Linked DNA regions of Homo sapiens: region 2 is reported to be linked to region 1. The links are microRNA targets in miRTarBase. Many come from high-throughput screens and were not tested one by one. Region 1 holds a microRNA gene; the other region holds the end of a gene's coding sequence.
The links. Region 1 holds the annotated microRNA hsa-miR-6803-5p (CUGGGGGUGGGGGGCUGGGCGU, at 2,037-2,058, shown strand). A microRNA usually pairs through its seed, bases 2 to 8, with sites in the 3' UTR of a target mRNA and lowers its output. Matches are read on the target gene's strand: a 7mer-m8 pairs with bases 2 to 8, a 7mer-A1 pairs with bases 2 to 7 and ends in A, and an 8mer does both.

Region 2: the mRNA of RUNX3 is a reported target of hsa-miR-6803-5p. Seed matches in the 3' UTR shown: 7mer-m8 at 2,594-2,600, 7mer-m8 at 2,275-2,281, 7mer-A1 at 1,818-1,824 and 7mer-m8 at 1,544-1,550.

Annotation. Positions count from the first base shown.
Region 1 is chr19:55,244,131-55,247,281 of GRCh38, reverse strand. MIR6803 (microRNA 6803) reads left to right here and starts at 2,032; the gene lies at 2,032-2,096. It overlaps PPP6R1 (protein phosphatase 6 regulatory subunit 1), which reads left to right. Exons shown (of 24, transcript NM_014931.4): 2 at 173-405; 3 at 1,604-1,790; 4 at 1,880-2,017; 5 at 2,097-2,162. The coding sequence starts at 179.
Region 2 is chr1:24,899,327-24,902,326 of GRCh38, forward strand. RUNX3 (RUNX family transcription factor 3) reads right to left here. Exons shown (of 5, transcript NM_004350.3): 5 at 185-3,000. The coding sequence ends at 2,796. Among named protein-coding and RNA genes, the nearest start is that of MIR6731, 19 kb to the right of the region's middle. RefSeq lists enhancers at 1,255-1,304, 2,072-2,521, 2,852-2,921.

The DNA.
Region 1 (3,151 bases):
AGTGAGCCTGCGGGCAGTCCCGGGGCGGGGCCGGGCTCAGCATGAGGCAGAGGGCTGGGACTTGGGGAGAGGCTGTGCCCAAGGTGGGCACTCAGCCCCTGTGGTCAGTGCCTCGTCCAGTGGGGACTCCCTGGGGCGTCTGACGCGGCGCTGGTTGTGTCTATGCCTGCAGGGCGCCATGTTTTGGAAGTTTGACCTGCACACAAGCTCGCACCTGGACACGCTGCTGGAGCGGGAGGACCTGAGCCTGCCCGAGCTGCTGGACGAGGAAGACGTGCTGCAGGAGTGCAAGGTCGTCAACCGCAAGCTGCTGGACTTCCTGCTGCAGCCACCCCACCTGCAAGCAATGGTGGCCTGGGTCACCCAGGAGCCGCCAGATAGCGGTGAGGAGCGGCTGCGCTACAAGTGAGTTCCCCAGCTCCTGGCCAGCCCGTCCCTATCAGCATCACACATACCTTCACTACGCAAGCCTCACAGCTACCCTGAAATGCGTCAGTGTCAGTAAACTCCAGTTTGGGGATGAGGAAGACGAGGCTGGGAGCAGCCAGGCTCCTGCACAAGGCCTCACAGCTCACCGGGTGCAGACCAAGCCTGTGCTCTGGAGGGCAGTGGCACAGTCACGGGTCACGGCAGCCACAAATTCACGGGCCCAGGTGATCCTCCCGCCTCAGTTGCCCGAGTAGCTGGGACCACAGGCATGTGACGACATGCCCGGCTGGTTTTTCTCTTTATTCGCCGCCTTTTATTTTATTTACTTTTTATTAAACTTTTTTTGTATGTTTGTGAAACACTTGTCTGCTATTGAAGACACTTTACTTATTTTTTAATCCAAGCGATGCTGAAAAGACACTTTTTTTTTTTTTTTTGAGACTCACTTTATCACCAGGTTGGAGTGCAGAGGCATGATCGGCTCACTGCAACCTCCTCCTCCCAAGTTCAAGTGATTCTCCTGCCTCACCCTCCTAAGTAGCTGGGACTATAAGCCAGCACGCCCAGCTAATTTTTGTATTTTTGGTAGAGACAGGGTTTCGCCATGTTGCCCAGGCTGGTCTTGAACTTCTGACCTCAAGTGATATGCCTGCCTCAGCCTCCCAAGGGGTACCTCCCCACAGTCCTGGAGCAGACTGTGGCCCCTCAGGGCCTTGAGTGGCACGCTGGTGGGGCAGCTCTTGTCTTGGAGCCGTCAGGCACCGTGTGAAAGTTTGGAGGAGGGAGGCAGGAGGTGAGGTTGGAAGTTGAGCAAGGTTCCAGGAGTCAGCCGGAGCTGGGGCAGCATACGGGGTTGCAAGTGAAGCCGCTGAGAGGCAAAAGGGATGAGTGTTAGCTGCTGGGGGATTGGGAAGCGCAGGAGCTTCAGGACCAGCTTGTCTTGGGGGTGGTAAGGAGCCTAGGATGGGATGGTTGGGTGTTAGCAGGGTGGAGGAGGCCTGGTGTGGGCCCTTGTTTCTGCGTCACCCTGTCCTCTGCCCTTTCCCCTTCCTGGACAGGGGTCTCTGCAGTTCCCAGAAACCCAGTGCCCGGTGCAGAGAAGAGGGTGGAGCCTTGCCGCCCCCTGCCCCCGGCCTCCGACCCGAGCCCCCACCCGCCTGTGCTTGCCTCCCAGGTACCCCAGTGTGGCCTGCGAGATTCTGACCTCAGATGTGCCCCAGATCAATGATGCCCTGGGTGCTGATGAGTCCCTTCTGAACCGGCTCTACGGCTTCCTGCAGAGCACCGGCAGCCTCAACCCACTGCTGGCCAGCTTCTTCAGCAAGGTCATGGGCATCCTCATCAACCGCAAGACAGACCAGGTGCCCTGGCCCCCACCCTGGCGCCACCGTGGGTTGAGGGGTGGTGGCTGGGCCAGGCCCTGTGCATGACGCAGCCCGTGTGCCCCCAGCTCGTGTCCTTTCTTCGGAAGAAGGATGACTTCGTGGACCTGCTGCTGCAGCACATTGGCACCTCGGCCATCATGGACCTCCTGCTGCGCCTGCTCACCTGTGTGGAGCGGCCTCAGCTGAGGCAGGATGTTGTCAATGTGAGCAGGGCCGGCTCCTCTGGGGGTGGGGGGCTGGGCGTGGTGGACAGCGATGCATCCCTCGCCTTCTCACCCTCAGTGGCTCAACGAGGAGAAGATCGTCCAGCGGCTGATTGAGCAGATCCACCCGTCGAAGGATGAGAATGTGAGTGCTGCCGATGCCCCTGCGGATTCCCCTTAGAGTTCCTTCCCCATGCCCACTTCCCCACTTTTAAAAGAGGAATTGGGGCTGGACGCAGTGGCTCACGCCTGTAATTCCAGCACTTTGGGAGGGCGAGGTGGGAGGATTACTTGAGCCCATGAGTTTGAGACCAGCTTGGGCAACATAGTAACACCCCGTCTCTACGTAAAAACTTAGCTGAGTGTGGTGTTGCACACCTGTAGTCCCAGCTACTTGGGAAGCTCAGGTAGGAGGATTGCTTGAGCCGGGAGGTCAAGGCTATAGTGAGTCATGATCACACCACTGCACTCCAGCCTGGGTGACACAGTGAGACCCTGTCTCAAAAAAAAAAAAAGAAAGAAAAGAAATTGGTGAGAAAAGAGAGCATTGAGAACCAGGTGTATCCATGCCCTTTGAGAAAAGGAAAGAAACTTGACTCAAGTGATTCTCCCACTGTGGCCTCCGAAAGTGCTGGAAAGGTTTTTTTCATGACCCAGGAACTTGGCACATAATGCCTTGCAGGGAGGGGCCCTCCTCATCGCCTGTCCAAGCGCTGGCCCCACATCCGTCCCTGCCCACCCTGGCCTGTGCTATTGCTGGGCCTGGCAGCTTTTTCCCTGTCTCCTGCCTGATTGAACCCCTTGCTGTCCTTCTAAGTGTCCGTCCAGCAGCCTTGCTTTCAAGCGCCCTCACATCCTCCCCTTTAGCTCTGGGGGACCCCATGTCCATGTGTTTCTCCAGCTTGGGTCTCCATCTCTGTCCTGGTGCCCAGCACAGGGCCTAGTGTAGAGTGGGTGTTTGTCAAGAGCCTCAGATATCCGAGGCCACTGGGAGCAACATGTCCTTCCCAATGCCAACTTCTGCCTCAGAGGCGCACAGGCTTACAGAGCAGAGATGGCTCTGGGCTCACCCAGGCTGGGGCCTGTCCCTGTGAGGACCCTGAGGCATGGCCCAGGGCCACACTGCCAAGCCCT
Region 2 (3,000 bases), not on the chromosome of region 1:
GGCCTCACCGGCTGTCCTGTGGCCAGGGTGGTCTCTGCGGCCATTCCTGAAGAAGTTGGAAGCAAGGAGATGAAGGTGCTGGGTGTCTCTGTTCCTGTTCCTCCTGGGCAACAGCAGGAGGTCTCCATCCTCTCCCCCACCCCACCCCACCTCCATGCATAGCCCTAGAAACCGGGCACTGGACTCCTTCCACACATCTCAGAGTTATATTATTGTAACAAATCAGTCAAAATTCCATTTTACAGTTAAATAGTACAGAAGACAGTTTACTGTACAAGCAAGTTGTGCGTTAAAAACAAACACCAAGCAAACGATAGTGCAAAGCAGTTTCCACCCAGCTCCATCCTCTCGCCAGCTCTGGGATGGTTTTACATCAGATGAGTGCAGCAGGTGTCACACCTCAGCATGACAATATGTCACAAAAGATTGGTACCCACTACTGACAGGCTCACAGTAACACTATATCAAAACGTCTTCCTTTCCTCGTGCTTCCTACATCAGTGTGTTTGCCTAGTACAACTTTAACGCAGCCTTGTAAATAAGGACCTACTTTTACCAGCCCAGGCTGTCTGTACCCACTTTGGGCCTTACAGACTCAGTACGGCTGCCGTCACTTTTTGTCAGGGGATGGGGGATGGGGTAGGAAGAGCAATTTATTTACTATCCCTGCCTCTCCAGGATCAGGAAGGGTTAGTAATCTGGGATGAGACTACAAAGTGCTGGGCACTGGGAACCCAAAGGTGCCTCCCACGCTGACCTGGGACCAGCTATAACCAGAGAACAGGAGGGAAGAAACTACAAGGACAATGGATTCATAGCTGCTTCCTAAGAAGGCATGGAGAGGCCCCTTGGGTGCAGGGAGTCAGCAACTATTTTGAGGAGATGGAGACTGTTTTTCCAGTGAGGACAGGCCAAGAGAAACCGCAGCAGGAGGGAATGGAATAGGATCACCAGAAGGACTGCCTAACCTGCCAGTGTGTCTCTGGTGTATGGTTCTGGCCGTTGTGACAGGTTGGGTGGGGACAGTGCTCTCACAGAGACAACCAATGAAGAGCATTTTGTAGGGCAGATTTCTGCATCCACAGAGGCCGAGGCAGAAAGTTAAAATACCGCATGCTGCTAGCCTTTATGAGTTCCCTTACGCCTTTTCTAAGCCTTTCTAGGGCCAGAGAACTCTGATGTGAGAATCCATGCAGCCTGGCCCTTGGGCAAGCGCCCACTTTCCCATTTTGCAAAATTCAGGGGCAAGACTTCACCTCGGAACGCAGTGCAGCTGAGCTGCGGCTGGAGAGCCCTTTACAGTGCTTCTGTCCTGCCACGCACAGCCAGTACTCCCCACCTCTCACATCCTGCCCACCTCCGCCCAGCCTCCTGGACAGATGTCCTAGAGCCACAGAGGAGAGATGCCCAGCGTCTCATCAGCGTTTCCCTCGTCCTCCCAGGGGAGCCTGTGGTGCAGGCTGGTGGGATGCTGCCTGATGGGGAGTGTAGCCCCTTGAGAAAGTATTGAGACCCTAATAACCCCACACCCTCAGGAGGCAGCTGGGGGTCCGCGGGGGGGAGAGGGGGCGGGGATGTTGCTTATAATCACAGAGCTATCATAATCACGGAACTATACCTGTAAGAGACCTTGTGTTTGAAAACGTTAGATTAAGCTTCTTTTTCTAAAATCAGTTTTAAAAACTGTTTTGTTTTTTTTTTGTTTTTTTGTTTTTTTTTTTTTTTTGCTCAGGACTATTTGCTTTCAGAGCACAAAACAGGTTACAGACAGGTGTGTGCCAGGAGTCGCAAGATTTGGCTGGATCCTCCCAGGAGGCTTGGGGGATGGGGCACAGCTTGGCTGGACCCAGGGGGGACAGGGACATTGATGTCTGACCCAAAATGATCCCTCACCTCAATGCCTTCTGCTAGGACCTATCTATCTGGCCCTCCTGTTCTCTCCACAAATGGAATTATGAGACCACCTAGGGGAAAGGGGACCTCCTATCCCCCCTCCCCCGCCCTGCCAAGAGAACAGAGAGTGGATGCGTTGAGCTGGTAAAGTGCATGGAGGAGCCGGTCTGTAGGTGCTTTCCTGGGTTTAAGAACCTGATGCCATAGACTCATCTTCTCTGGGGCCTGGGACCCGTGCGGCTGGGGGAAAGCCAACAGTTAGGAACGGAGGGGAAGCTGGGCTGGGGGGACTGGCTTGGATGTGTTCTCAAACCATCTCTGCCAGCAGCGTGCTGGGTCCTGCCCCATCTGTACAATGAGGGGAACCCCGCTCGAGGGTGGTGGGGGTGGGGGACACTTTCCAGTTCTGACTCAAATCTGTGTAAATGCAGAGGGGGCTGGACCCAGGGGATGCAGGGGCTCCAACGAAGGTGCAGGGGTCGGGAGGTTTCCCAGGGCCTGAGGCTTATCCTGTGGGCCAATGCTGCCTCTCTCTGGAAGAGAGATGGCCTCTGTCCCAGGAGACATGGGTCCCATGCAGCACTGGGCATAGCTGGAGACAGTGAGGTCCTTCCGGGGGGGTGGCAGGAGGCTGATTCCCCACAGAAGTATGGGATGAGACGGCCAGGATCTGGGCCGGGGGCAGTATCCCGGGCCGGGGTGGGGGTGGTAACCTATGCCTCTGTACAAGGATGTGGCTGCACAGATGCAGCCAGAGGCTCCCACCAGCTGGGACCACCCTGGGACCGAGACCACCCTGGAGCGCAGGTCCCATTCCCGCCCGGAGCCTCGGAGCCGGCCCATCACTGGTCTTGAAGGTTGTTAGGGTCCCCGCCTCCAGCGGGAGGAGTCCACCAGGGCGGTCAGTAGGGCCGCCACACGGCCTCATCCATGCGGCCTGGCGTGCTCAGGGCCGTGGGTGAGTTGCTGTGGCTGCCGTCGGCCTCCACGCCATCACTCTGGCCGCCCAGGCTGGGGTTCATGAGGTTGCCGGCGGCGACAGAGGCAGCGCTGCTGGTGCAAGAGGCCAGCATGCGGGTAGGTGAGCGGTCGCCCCCACTGCTGCTG